Homo sapiens: one gene and its partners. The protein of the gene in region 1 purifies or fractionates together with the protein of each later gene. This does not show direct contact. Each region holds a gene or a part of one and is shown in the gene's direction. Other genes may lie near its edges. The genes, in order: RNASE13, CLCC1 and LRP2.

Evidence for each region.
Region 2: the proteins of RNASE13 (region 1) and CLCC1 purify together in Homo sapiens (affinity purification with mass spectrometry, with the first as the bait; one large-scale study listed by BioGRID). This does not show direct contact.
Region 3: the proteins of RNASE13 (region 1) and LRP2 purify together in Homo sapiens (affinity purification with mass spectrometry, with the first as the bait; one large-scale study listed by BioGRID). This does not show direct contact.

The regions. Positions count from the first base shown.
Region 1 is NC_000014.9:21,032,249-21,036,386, reverse strand, and holds RNASE13 (probable inactive ribonuclease-like protein 13 precursor), read left to right. Parts: upstream 1-1,579; 5' UTR 1,580-1,731; intron 1,732-2,090; 5' UTR 2,091-2,098; coding exon 2,099-2,569; 3' UTR 2,570-3,569; downstream 3,570-4,138. UniProt on the Homo sapiens protein: Does not exhibit any ribonuclease activity.
Region 2 is NC_000001.11:108,935,866-108,939,516, reverse strand, and holds part of CLCC1 (chloride channel CLIC-like protein 1 isoform 1 precursor), read left to right. Parts: intron 1-1,208; exon of another isoform or gene 1,209-1,351; intron 1,352-2,098; coding exon 2,099-2,440; intron 2,441-3,651. UniProt on the Homo sapiens protein: Anion-selective channel with Ca(2+)-dependent and voltage-independent gating. Permeable to small monovalent anions with selectivity for bromide > chloride > nitrate > fluoride.
Region 3 is NC_000002.12:169,131,911-169,135,561, reverse strand, and holds part of LRP2 (low-density lipoprotein receptor-related protein 2 precursor), read left to right. Parts: intron 1-2,880; coding exon 2,881-2,988; intron 2,989-3,651. UniProt on the Homo sapiens protein: Multiligand endocytic receptor. Acts together with CUBN to mediate endocytosis of high-density lipoproteins. Mediates receptor-mediated uptake of polybasic drugs such as aprotinin, aminoglycosides and polymyxin B.

The DNA.
Region 1 (4,138 bases):
ACAATTCTTCTTCCAATGTGGCCCAGGGAAGCCAAAAGACTGGGCACCCCTACCCTATGAGAAACAAGCTATTGCAGACTTTTAGACGAAAGAAGGGATCACACTTTTTCTCTTGAAGTTGTATAAGAGATATATTTGAGTTGAGTCTTACTGGAGTTGGAGTGTGTGTGCTGTCCAGGCGAGACGAGAGCATCCACTGAGGAAGAAATAAGAATGGAAGAGATGGGCTTGGGAAAAGTTTAAGATTGTCAGGGCTGTGTGACTGATGGACTCAGGCTCATACTGAGGACTCACCATGTGCCGGGCACTGGTCTAAAAACTCTTGATATACATCTTAATGGATCCTCATACTGCCGTGAGGTAAAAAATACTATCCTCATGAACAGATGAAACAAGGAAGCTTTCAGTGGTTTCGTAAACAGATAGATGGTGTGCAGTTTGTAAGCTGCAGAGGCAGGATTCAATTCCTGGTCTGTTTCACTCAAAAGCCTTGATCTTAACCACCATGCAGGACCGCCTCCCCGTAGCTGGGATTGGGGAGGTGGAGGGGTCTAGGATCACTTTCAGGTTTCTTGCATAGGTAACCAGGGAAACTGAGTTGACAAAACAGGAAGAGAAACAAGTTATGGGGAGGATGGATTCCATTTTGGACTGTGGTTTGTGCTGTCAGAAAGTGCCAGTTTAGGGGGCTCTACATGAGGAACACCAATCTTTCTCTCTGCGGCCTTACTCCCTCCTCCTGAGCTATACTGAGGGTGTTGGAGCACTCAGCTTTCTGTGTTCTGACTCCCCTTTTCTGCTGCCCAGCAAAGGTAAAAAGGCTCTCCTAAGAGGAGGCCCCAAATCTGGAAGACACCTTGCAGACTAACAAGGCTGAGTGACCTGTGGAAGTCAAGGGCAAGAGCTAGCAGTTTCCAGGGAGCTGGCTCTTTGATTCTGATGAAAGGGAAGATGTTGATGAAAAAGATAGGAGCGTGGCCCTTTCCCCAGCATGGCAAACCACTCAGAGATCAACCAACAGTACGAAACGGATCATGCCAGGCTCTGGCATCCACAGCTTTTCATGTTCAGGTTATGCTTTCAAATCCAAACTGCCAAGTTTGAGGCTTCAGAGTCAGCATGCAGAGATTTCCAGTAGTGCTCAAACTCTGACAGGGCCTGAGGTCACAGGTGAAGGCTGTGGGTGTGACAGGAGTAAGGCTGATAGGGACCGTGGGGAGTCCACATGGAGGTCTTTGATTCTCAGCCCAGCACTTTGGTGGGAGGCCCCTGAGTACATGCCCTCCTGGGCTCCCGTGAGTGGGATGACAAAGTGGCGAATGCTCTGTTCTCTGAGGGTCAGGAATAAGAAGCACTTTGTTCCTCAGAAACATAACAGTGCTTTCCTACTCACCTTGCCACGAGAGCACAGGCTATGGAACAGAGAAAACATCAAAGAAAGCCCAGGCACTTAGGAACTTTTGGCAAGGAGATTGGAAGTAAGTGTTCCAATGACACTGTAGAGGAGGAGACCAGATAGTAATGCCTCTTTCCTCCCACCCATCCAACCCTCTTAGCACAGGGGCTCATCAAACTCGGGGACATTCCCTCCTCCCAGACTGATTTTTACCTAGAAACCTTTCTAGCCTCTCCTCATCTCTTGACTGTCTTGGCCTTGGCAAGAAGAATACACGTCCCTACCCAGCTATCTTCAGCTCCTGTCCTTCCTCCCAGCTGCCAGAGAATTGTCAGGTCAGCCTGCTCCTTCTTTCTTCTCTGCATTTTTTACTAGCAGGAGTGCCAGGGGCCCAAGGACTCTTGGGAAGAGTCTCTCACCCAAGGACCAGTTAGAGCTCTTATTCTGCAAATGTAGCTCACGGACTCTGCAGAGGCTGAGATTCTGTGGTGGACCAGGGGAGCAGGGCTGGCTGAAGGTGGCTGGTTGTCTGGGTGGCCTTGGGCAAGCATCTCCTCTTTCTGGGTCATGAGAACTTGGTTATGGGTGAGATGATCTCTAAAGTACTGTTGGGTTGGGAATGCTGGAGGCTCTGGGATGTGGCAGACAGCCACTTCAGGCCCACTGCTGCCCCCAACCACCTTAACTCTACCAGCAGGAGGAATGGCACCAGCTGTGACCCGGCTCCTTTTCCTCCAGCTTGTTCTGGGGCCAACTCTGGTCATGGACATCAAGATGCAGATTGGCAGCAGGAACTTCTATACCTTAAGCATTGACTATCCCAGGGTTAACTACCCAAAGGGTTTCCGGGGCTATTGTAATGGTCTGATGTCCTATATGCGAGGCAAGATGCAAAATTCAGATTGCCCAAAGATCCATTATGTGATACATGCCCCTTGGAAGGCCATCCAGAAGTTCTGCAAGTATAGTGACAGCTTCTGTGAGAATTACAATGAATACTGCACACTCACCCAGGATTCCCTCCCCATCACGGTCTGCTCCCTGAGCCACCAACAGCCACCCACTAGCTGCTACTACAATAGCACCCTAACCAACCAGAAGCTCTACCTACTCTGCTCCCGCAAGTATGAAGCTGATCCAATAGGTATCGCTGGTCTCTATTCGGGAATTTAATTCCTGAGCCACTCCCCAACCTCTACCACCACAGGCCAGCTGTCTCCATTTCCAACACTCTGATCCCTGTAACAAGACTTCCTTCCTGACTTACGAGGCAGGCAGGGTCCCCTCCCAAGAGACCAGGTGGGTGCGAAAATGTCCAGGGCTTTGATCACCATGCAAAGTGGTGCTATCTTCTAGGTTCTTTCCAGCTTGTTTACCCCCTCTTCGCCCCCACCTCCTCATCATCCTTCCTCTCCCAGAGACAGTAAAACCCACCCAAGAAGTTGACTGTGTCCAGTTGGCAGTGACTGTCCACCCACTGGGCCAGATCCTAAGTCCTGGATGGAGGCCCAGGGCCTCAGCTCACACCATGGCAACAGGCACCAGCTCCGAGTCTCACCTCCCCATCCCCACCAGCCTTCTCATGTCAGCCTCCCCCAGTTCCCTTATAATTCCCTCCACTCACCCACCTACTCAGGGGATATGGCTAGCTATAGGAACCTCCCTGAGGCCCTCAGACTCATGTTAGCCTCACTTCCCCACAACCCCCAGTTTCCAGCCTGCTTCTCTCTGTGAAATCATGGTTTCTCCCTTCATATAACTGTCCTCTCCTGCTTCCTCTTACCATGGAGCCTAGGACTGTCTCCCCCACACTCCCAACAACCGTAGTCACCCTGCCTTCCTTTTTCCAACCTCTTTTTCTTCCAGTCTTCTTACCTTGGCTCACTGGCATTTCAAGGTATCTTCTCTCACCCATTCCCCAGAGGTTCCTGCTTCCCTTCTCTTCCAGAAGCTCCTCCCAAATCCCCCAGACTCCAGAGTCTGCCCCTGACCAGGCAGCGAATGAGGCAGGCCCGGCTCTAATCGAACATAAATTTCTAAAACCACATCTGAGTATGTAAGATGTAACCATTGGGGGAAACTGGGTGAAGGGCACACGAGCCCCCTCTGTACCATTTTTTGTAACTTCCTGTCAACCCATAATCAATTCAAAATAAAAAGTTAATAACACACATCTGACTCTGTTGTGATTTAATTGCTTTTTCTTCAGTGCACCAGAACTCCTGCTCTTGGAATCCTGGCAGCCTGCCTCATCTGGCCATCTTCCTGAGCTACCCTTAGCAGTCAGTAAGCTCTTCTGTCCCATGTGCCCCATGATGGAGGTGATGTGGGGTAAAACTTAGTTCTGGGCTGGGTGTTGAAAATAGACTCTCCCCTTACCCCAGCTCTGGAACAAATTTGTAATAGAAGTCAGGCAACCTTAGCTGGCTTCTACTCCTCCACCCAAAAAACCTGAATTGCAACAGATGAGGAAGGTGGAGGGACAGGGAAGGATCTAATATGTGATATAGTCATAGTCCATCACGTGAGGAATTGCTACACCCTTTTGAGGGGTGGGGGTGGAGAGGTGGATATCAGTAATGTGTGAACACAAGTAGTAGATACTTTTACCTCCACATCTGGTTCATCTCTTTACTCCAAATATATTCTTCCATCCTGTTCTTGGAAGCAGCTGTTGAGGAGGAATGCTAACTGATGGCTGGTAGGCATAAGGCTAAGCAGAGCGAAGGGTGTGTGGTGGAG
Region 2 (3,651 bases), on another chromosome or scaffold:
TAACACAGTGAAACCCTGTCTCTACTAAAAAAAATACAAAAAATTAGCCGGGCGTGGTGGCGGGCGCCTGTAGTCCCAGCTACTCGGGAGGCTGAGGCAGGAGAACGGGGTGAACCTGGGAGGCGGAGCTTGCAGTGAGCCGAGATCGCACCACTGTACTCCAGCCTGGGCGACAGAGCAAGATTCCGTCTCAAAAAAAAAAAAAAATTATACATATATGTATATTTATATATCTATCTATATATATTTATATTTATATATCTGTCTATATTTATATATTTATTATATATAATATATATTTATATATTATATATTTATATTTATATATATATATGCACTGTCAGTATTTAGCAAGATTTATATTAAATCTTAGTATTAATATTAGTAATACTGGTTAGTATTAAATATTAGCACTGTCAATATTTAGCAAGATTTACAGAAAAAAAGGCAATGCTAAAATTATTGGGCTTCTTTGATGTTGTAAATCAGGCTAAGTCACGCTTAATGAGAAGGCGATTTTTAAGTGATACAGATTTTTTTCCTCCCCTCTGCCCCTCTAAATGATACAGACATATTATACTTACTTGTATATTTTTATAATCAAGAAAGTAGTTCTCTAGTTTGATTGCATATGTCATAGCAGTGATTTAGAATAATAACCTCTTTTTAAATGTGTTAACCTTGGTAAATTAATACACAGGAAATAGGAAGTTGATTTCTGTCTCCCAGAAAGGGGGACTTCTTATTTCTAGTCAGTTTTTGCAGCAGTGAGAAGGGTAGAGCATTGAGTTTGACACAGAACCAGAAAGGGATGTGGAAGAACATGGGTATGCTGAGAAAGAGTTTGGGGATCCAGGAGCAGACATTAAGAAGAAATATTACTCGTCATCCCTCCATGGTCTATTCAGTGTTTTTTGTTATCGATTTTTTAGCTATTACCCAAGTAAAGCAGTTGTCGCATAAAACAAAAAGAACTCAGATGTGCCAAGGGAAATTCTCTTCCCTAAGGATACAAGATTCACTATCTCTGTTCACTTTGAAATCGTTTCTTTTTTGGTTTTGTTTTTTGGCTTGTGATTACAGGATTATGTGGTTGACGGGTATTTTTTTGTTAGGTGACATTAGTTCTATAGTCATAGTTTAGTCTCTGAAACTGAAATTATCAGCAGAGTCTTCACCATCTGTTTTTGTTTCATGTGCTCCCTCAGGAAAGTTATGCTCTTTGACTTTTGCTGCTTTTGTCTTCAAATAGTAGTGTTTGAAAAACTAGTACAGAAATTTTCAAAGTTTCTGTTCTCAGGACCTCTTTGCAGTCTTAAAAATTGAAGCCCACAAACAGCTCTTACTTAAGGTGATTATATTTATTGATACTTACATATTAGGAGTTAAAACAAATTTAAAACATACGAGTACTGTACACGCAAGCATGCATCCCCTGAGTCTGAGTGAGGCTGTCACTCTAGCATCTGGAATGCTCCGTTGTATATTCAGGAGGGGACAGTGAAAAAGACAAATAATAATGTCTTTGTATTATGAAAAGTTTTGATCTCATAGATCTCCTGAAAGTCTCAGGTATCCCCCGGGGGTCCCTGGGCCACACTGTAAGGAACTGCTGCCTACTTTTTCCCATGGAATGTGAATCAAAACCTGTTGAATTTTAGCTGTAACTTAAGCCTAGTTTATATTTGTAAAAAGAAAATGTACAGAAGATTGTTTACATAATGATATACAACTTTAAATATTTTCAGCATTTACCTTATATGATGGGCATGAATCTAGAAACATGAATAATTATCAGACTAGAACCTTCTAATTTAAATATCTAGGCTTCAGCCTGCCATTGTTATAGTTCAATCGAAATGTGTCTAGCTGATTAAAATGTCTACTGAAAGATTTATTAAGTTTTATTGGCCACTCTGGCCTTGTATTAATCTAAAGAGGTCTCTAATGAAAAAAAGTCAAATTAACATGTTTATGTCTATAAATGCCACAAGTAAGTTAAATTACATAACTTTGTTAGCACTCTGAATAAAATGCCTCATAACTTTTGTAAGTTAGCCATTGAGTCCTCAGGAAAATGTATTTCTTTTCCTTACAGAGTTTCTGCTATGGTGCTGGAAAATCAGTTCATGTGCTGAGACATATAGGCGGTCCTGAGAGCGAACCTCCCCAGGCACTTCGGCCACGGGATAGAAGACGGCAGGAGGAAATTGATTATAGACCTGATGGTGGAGCAGGTGATGCCGATTTCCATTATAGGGGCCAAATGGGCCCCACTGAGCAAGGCCCTTATGCCAAAACGTATGAGGGTAGAAGAGAGATTTTGAGAGAGAGAGATGTTGACTTGAGATTTCAGACTGGCAACAAGAGCCCTGAAGTGCTCCGGGCATTTGATGTACCAGACGCAGAGGCACGAGAGCATCCCACGGTGGTACCCAGTGTAAGTCAGCAACTCTTTTATTCTGCTGTCCCTTCATTACTGGTTCTAAATCCTTCTGGAAGAGGTCTGATTGTTTTTACTCTTTTACCCCTCACCCTTAATTATATCATGAGTGATACAGCCACTCACTCTCTCCCCTTTCTGGTCAAAAGTTAGTTCAGCTTCCTCAGAAGAAATAAAATTAGATTTAACTTTTATGTAAAATACAATTTAACAGTAGTTTGTTAGAGCAGATGGTAATTCATATGAACCTTCATGGGAAGCCAGCGTATGAGCATGACAGAAATTTCTATCTTTGAAGAGATCAGAGAGAAGGCATCACTGAAGGCCCGGAGCTCTAGGGAAGGTACAGTAGAGCCCTAAAGGATTAGCTGGATGGAAGAGTGGGCTGGGGCCAGGGATCAAAAACATTGCTTCCCCAAATCTTCAGTGTCATTGGCTGGCTAGACTATACTTTTTACCTGTAGAATGGTAAGAAGAAGTTTTTCACCATTATCAGTCTTTTAAAGGGACATTTCCATTTCTGTTTGAGAGAGGAATTTGTATTGTCATTTGAAATGTTTAAATTGCAGCTGTTAAACCTTTGAAACAGTTATGAGCATAATAGAATCTGGGAAATTATAGAATCCCTTCCCATAGTTTCATATAAAAATAAACATATCTACATGTATCTAGAAAGATGGACCAGGCGCGGCGGCTCACGCCTGTGATCCCAGCACTGGGAGGCCGAGGCAGGCGGATCACTGGAGGTCTGCAGTTCAAGACCAGCCTGGCCAACGTGGCAAAGCCCCATCTCTACTGAAAATACAAGAAAATTAGCCAGGCGTGATGTGGTATGCACCTGTAATCCCAGCTACTTGGGAGGCTGAGACAGGAGAATTGCTTGATTCCAGGGGGCGGAGGTTGCAGTGAGCCGAGATCGTGCCATTGCACTCCAGCCTGGGTGACAGAGTGAGACGTCGTCTCAAAAAAAAAAAAAAAAAAAAAAAAACAACTTAAGATGGTCCTTCCAGCTTTTATAGTTAGTAATTACCTGTCACCTATCTCAGAAGTCTTCCAGTGACTTCCTATCTCACTTGAGGGGAAAGCCAGTATTACAATGGCCTGGAAGCCTCCTTGGTCTCCCCTTCCCCCACATCCACTACCTCTCTGGTCACCTCTTCTCCCTCCGTGCTTACTCTACTTTAGCCATAAGGGCTCCTGACTGTTCC
Region 3 (3,651 bases), on another chromosome or scaffold:
ATGAAGGTTCCACTGAATACCAAGAGCCTGAGAAACTGCTTGGGTGACTTGACAAGTAAAGGCCGGTCCACTGTCGGACTGTATAGAGGTGGGAAGGCCAAACCGAGGAATTATGTCTGACAGAAGGGAAGAAATGACCGCAGTGGACTTCTCAGACCCTGTGGGAAAGGCCTCTTCCTATCCTGTGAAAGTGTCTACCCAGACCAAGAGGTATTTTAGTTTCCTGACTTGGGGCATGTGAGTAAAGTCAATTTGCCAGTCCTGGGCGGGGGAAAAACCCCGAGCTTGAGGTGTAGGGAAGGGAGGGGGCCTGAGAAATTCCTGAGGAGTAGTAGAATAGCAGATGGAACACTGAGAAGTGATTTCCTTGAGGATAGATTTCCACAATGGAAAGGAAATGAGAGGTTCTAAGAGACTGGCTAGTGGCTTGTAACCTACATGGAAGAGGTTATGAAATGATGACAGAATAGAATGGGCCTGTGAGGCTGGAAGGAGATATTTTCCTTGGTCTAAGAACCATTTGCCTTGTGTGGGAAGAGATTGATAGGTGGAAGTTTCAGCGGGGGACTAGGTGGGAGTGACTAATGTGAAGGAGAAAAACTGACTGTGAGGGACAGAAGTTGGAACGCTAGCTGCTTTTTTAGCTAATTTATCAGCATAAGCATTGTCCTGAGCGATGGGATCTGATGCCTTTTTGATGGCCCTTGCAGTGAATGACTCCAGCTTCCTCTGGAAGTAAAGCGGCTTTGAGAAGCGTTTTTATTAAAGACGCATTAATGATAGAGGACCCTTGTGTAGTGAGGAAACCTCTTGCATGGTGGTGCAGGATATGGAAGGCATATATAGAGTCAGTATAAATACTGACATGTAGTCCCTTTGCAAGAGTGAGGGTTTGACTTAAGGCAATGAGTTCGGCTTGCTGAGAGGTAGTGGAGCGGGGCAGAGCGGTAGCCTCAATGATAGATGTGGAAGATACTATAGCATAGCCTGCCTTTGCTGGTGAGTGGCGATTAGGCCTGGTGGAACTGCTATCAGTAAACCAAGTGTGTTCAGGGTGAGGAACAGGAAAAAAGGAAATATGGGGAAATGGGGTGAATGTCAGGTGGATCAGAGAGATACAGTCATGGGGGTCAGGTGTGGTATCCGTAGTAATGTGGGAGGCTGGATTGAAGTCTGGGCCAGAAACAATGGTAATTGTGGGAGACTCAACAAAGAGTGAGTACAGCTGAAGGAGCTGGGGAACAGACAGTATATGCGTCAGGTGGGAGAAAGAAAATAGATTTTGGAAGTTATGAGAACTGTAGAGAGTGAGTTGAGCATAGTTTGTGATTTTTAGGGCCTCTAAAAGTATTAAAGCAGTGGCAGCCGCTGCACGCAGACATGAGGGCTAGGCTAAAACAGTAAGGTCAAGTTGTTTGGACAGAAAGGCTACAGGGCACGGTCCCGGCTCTTGTGTAAGAATTCTGACTGCACTAACCATGCCTAGGAAGGAAAGGAGTTGTTGTTTTGTAGAAGGGATTGAGGTTTGGGAGATTAGTCAGACTTGATCAGCAGGGAGAGCATGTGTGTTTTTATGAGAATTATGCCGAAATAGGTAACAGATGAGGATGAAATTTGGGCTTGACTGAAGTAATGGGGGCTGTCTGTGAAGCTTTGCAGCAGTACAGCCCAGGTAATTTGCTGAGCCTGATGGGTGTCAGGTTCAGTCTAAGTGAAAGTGAAGAGAGGCTGGGATGACGGGTGCAAAGGAATAGTAAAGAAAGCATGTTTGAGATTCAGTCCGTCATCTTTAAGAAGAGCTGGGAGATGAAATAGGAATATAGGTGAAGGGAATAACTTTACATAAGGTCTGCATCAATAGCCCCAGCGCCACTTTTACTGCTTGTCAACTGCGAACATGTATCTCCTTTGTCACAACAACTATGGCCTTAGTGACAATGAATAACTGTCATTGTTAACACCTAATGCTCCTTTTGAACTCGAGATATGGCACATTTTAATACAGAAACTAGAAATGTTTATTTTACAAATATTTTGTGATTTTAAGATCGGAAATGTTTAAATCTTGAAAGCATTTTCCCTGATCCTCTGATAAACAGATATGAAAACTTTAATCACATGATAAAAGAGATACGACATTTCATTTGACATCTTCACTTAAAATAAAATGAGGCCATGTATACAAATGCATATCCAAGTTTCAGAATAAACAAGTAATGAATGTGAAAATATAGGAAAAGGAGTGAATTGTCTACCTTGTAGTTTATTATGCATTCATGGTAATTTGGTCTTAAAAGGGAACCTTGGAATTGTATGAATGTTATAGAAAAATGCGTAGAAGATTATTAATTCTATCATTCTCATCTTTTCAAAAATTCAACCTCTTTTTAGTAGTACTATGAAATCTTAATTTCCGAAGATAGGATTTATTAATATTCAAAGAAATTATTAAGATCCAAAGATAGGATTCTCAGTTCATCAGTGAGGTTGGGGAATTATTCTTGCTGTTCTTCTAGGATTTGGCTTCCAGTATATAACTAGAGTATGATTATCCAAAAATTTGGTCAACAGTGGGAGTAAGAAGGTATAGAGAATACAGTAGAAATTGCTAGTAATAAGTGAGAGTGTGACCAGTGAGGGATGTATTTGCCTCCCAGGATTAAGGTATGAGGTGACTTAGTGGTTGCTGCTCTTGATTTTGGGGCGGTGGGAGTGATGTTTAGTCCTGGCCTACTGGGTCATGCAATAAAAATGGTGCCTGATGATGTCTGTGGGAGAACAAGATGGCAAAAAGAGCCAGAGTTGGTACAAACTTTACAGCAAATTTATTTACTACTAAATTCTTTCAAAATTGGGTAAAGGCCTTTAACATGTCCACAGGTGACTGTATCTGAAAATGTGGATAATAAGAATTATGGAAGTCCCATAAACCCTTCTGAGATAGTTCCAGAGACAAACCCAACTTCACCAGCTGCTGATGGAACTCAGGTAACAGTTGCCGACTCCTGAAATAATGTGGGATTTGGAAAAACTTTGGGATGACTGGGTTTTTATTAACCTTAAGCAAACAAGGGAGATTCTGGAAGGCTCAAAGATCTCAAGATGTGTTGACAGTTAATAAATATAATTTTTTAAAAAGTCATAGATTGAAAAACTTTCCACCAAATAAAGCTACATTCTAACATCGAGTTGGGAATAATGTTCCTTGTAACATAGGAGGACATGTCACAAAGAAGAACAAATAGACTTCTGGATCCAGTATCTTCAGACCAGAGACATTTAAGTTGAGAAATTGACTCAGTATGAATAAAGATTTCACGGTGTCAAAGATACAGATGAAAGATCCGTCTGTGTGTGCCGTGATTTCTCTACAGCATGCATCTTTATTCTTTCAAGCTGTTCTTCGCTCTCCTGCTATTACAGATCTTTACCACTAGATGGCACTAATTTTTCCATTCATCATCCATCTATTCATTATTGGCCAACCAATCATCTAACTAACGTTATTCCCCTCGATGTGTCAGGGATGGTGTTTAATACTGGAGATTGAAAGAAAAAAATGCCACTAGATGGAGCTTCTTAAACATGCCTGCAGGTCCTTTGCAATTGGTACACTATTTGGTCTGCAGGAAGAAATTCAATAAATATATT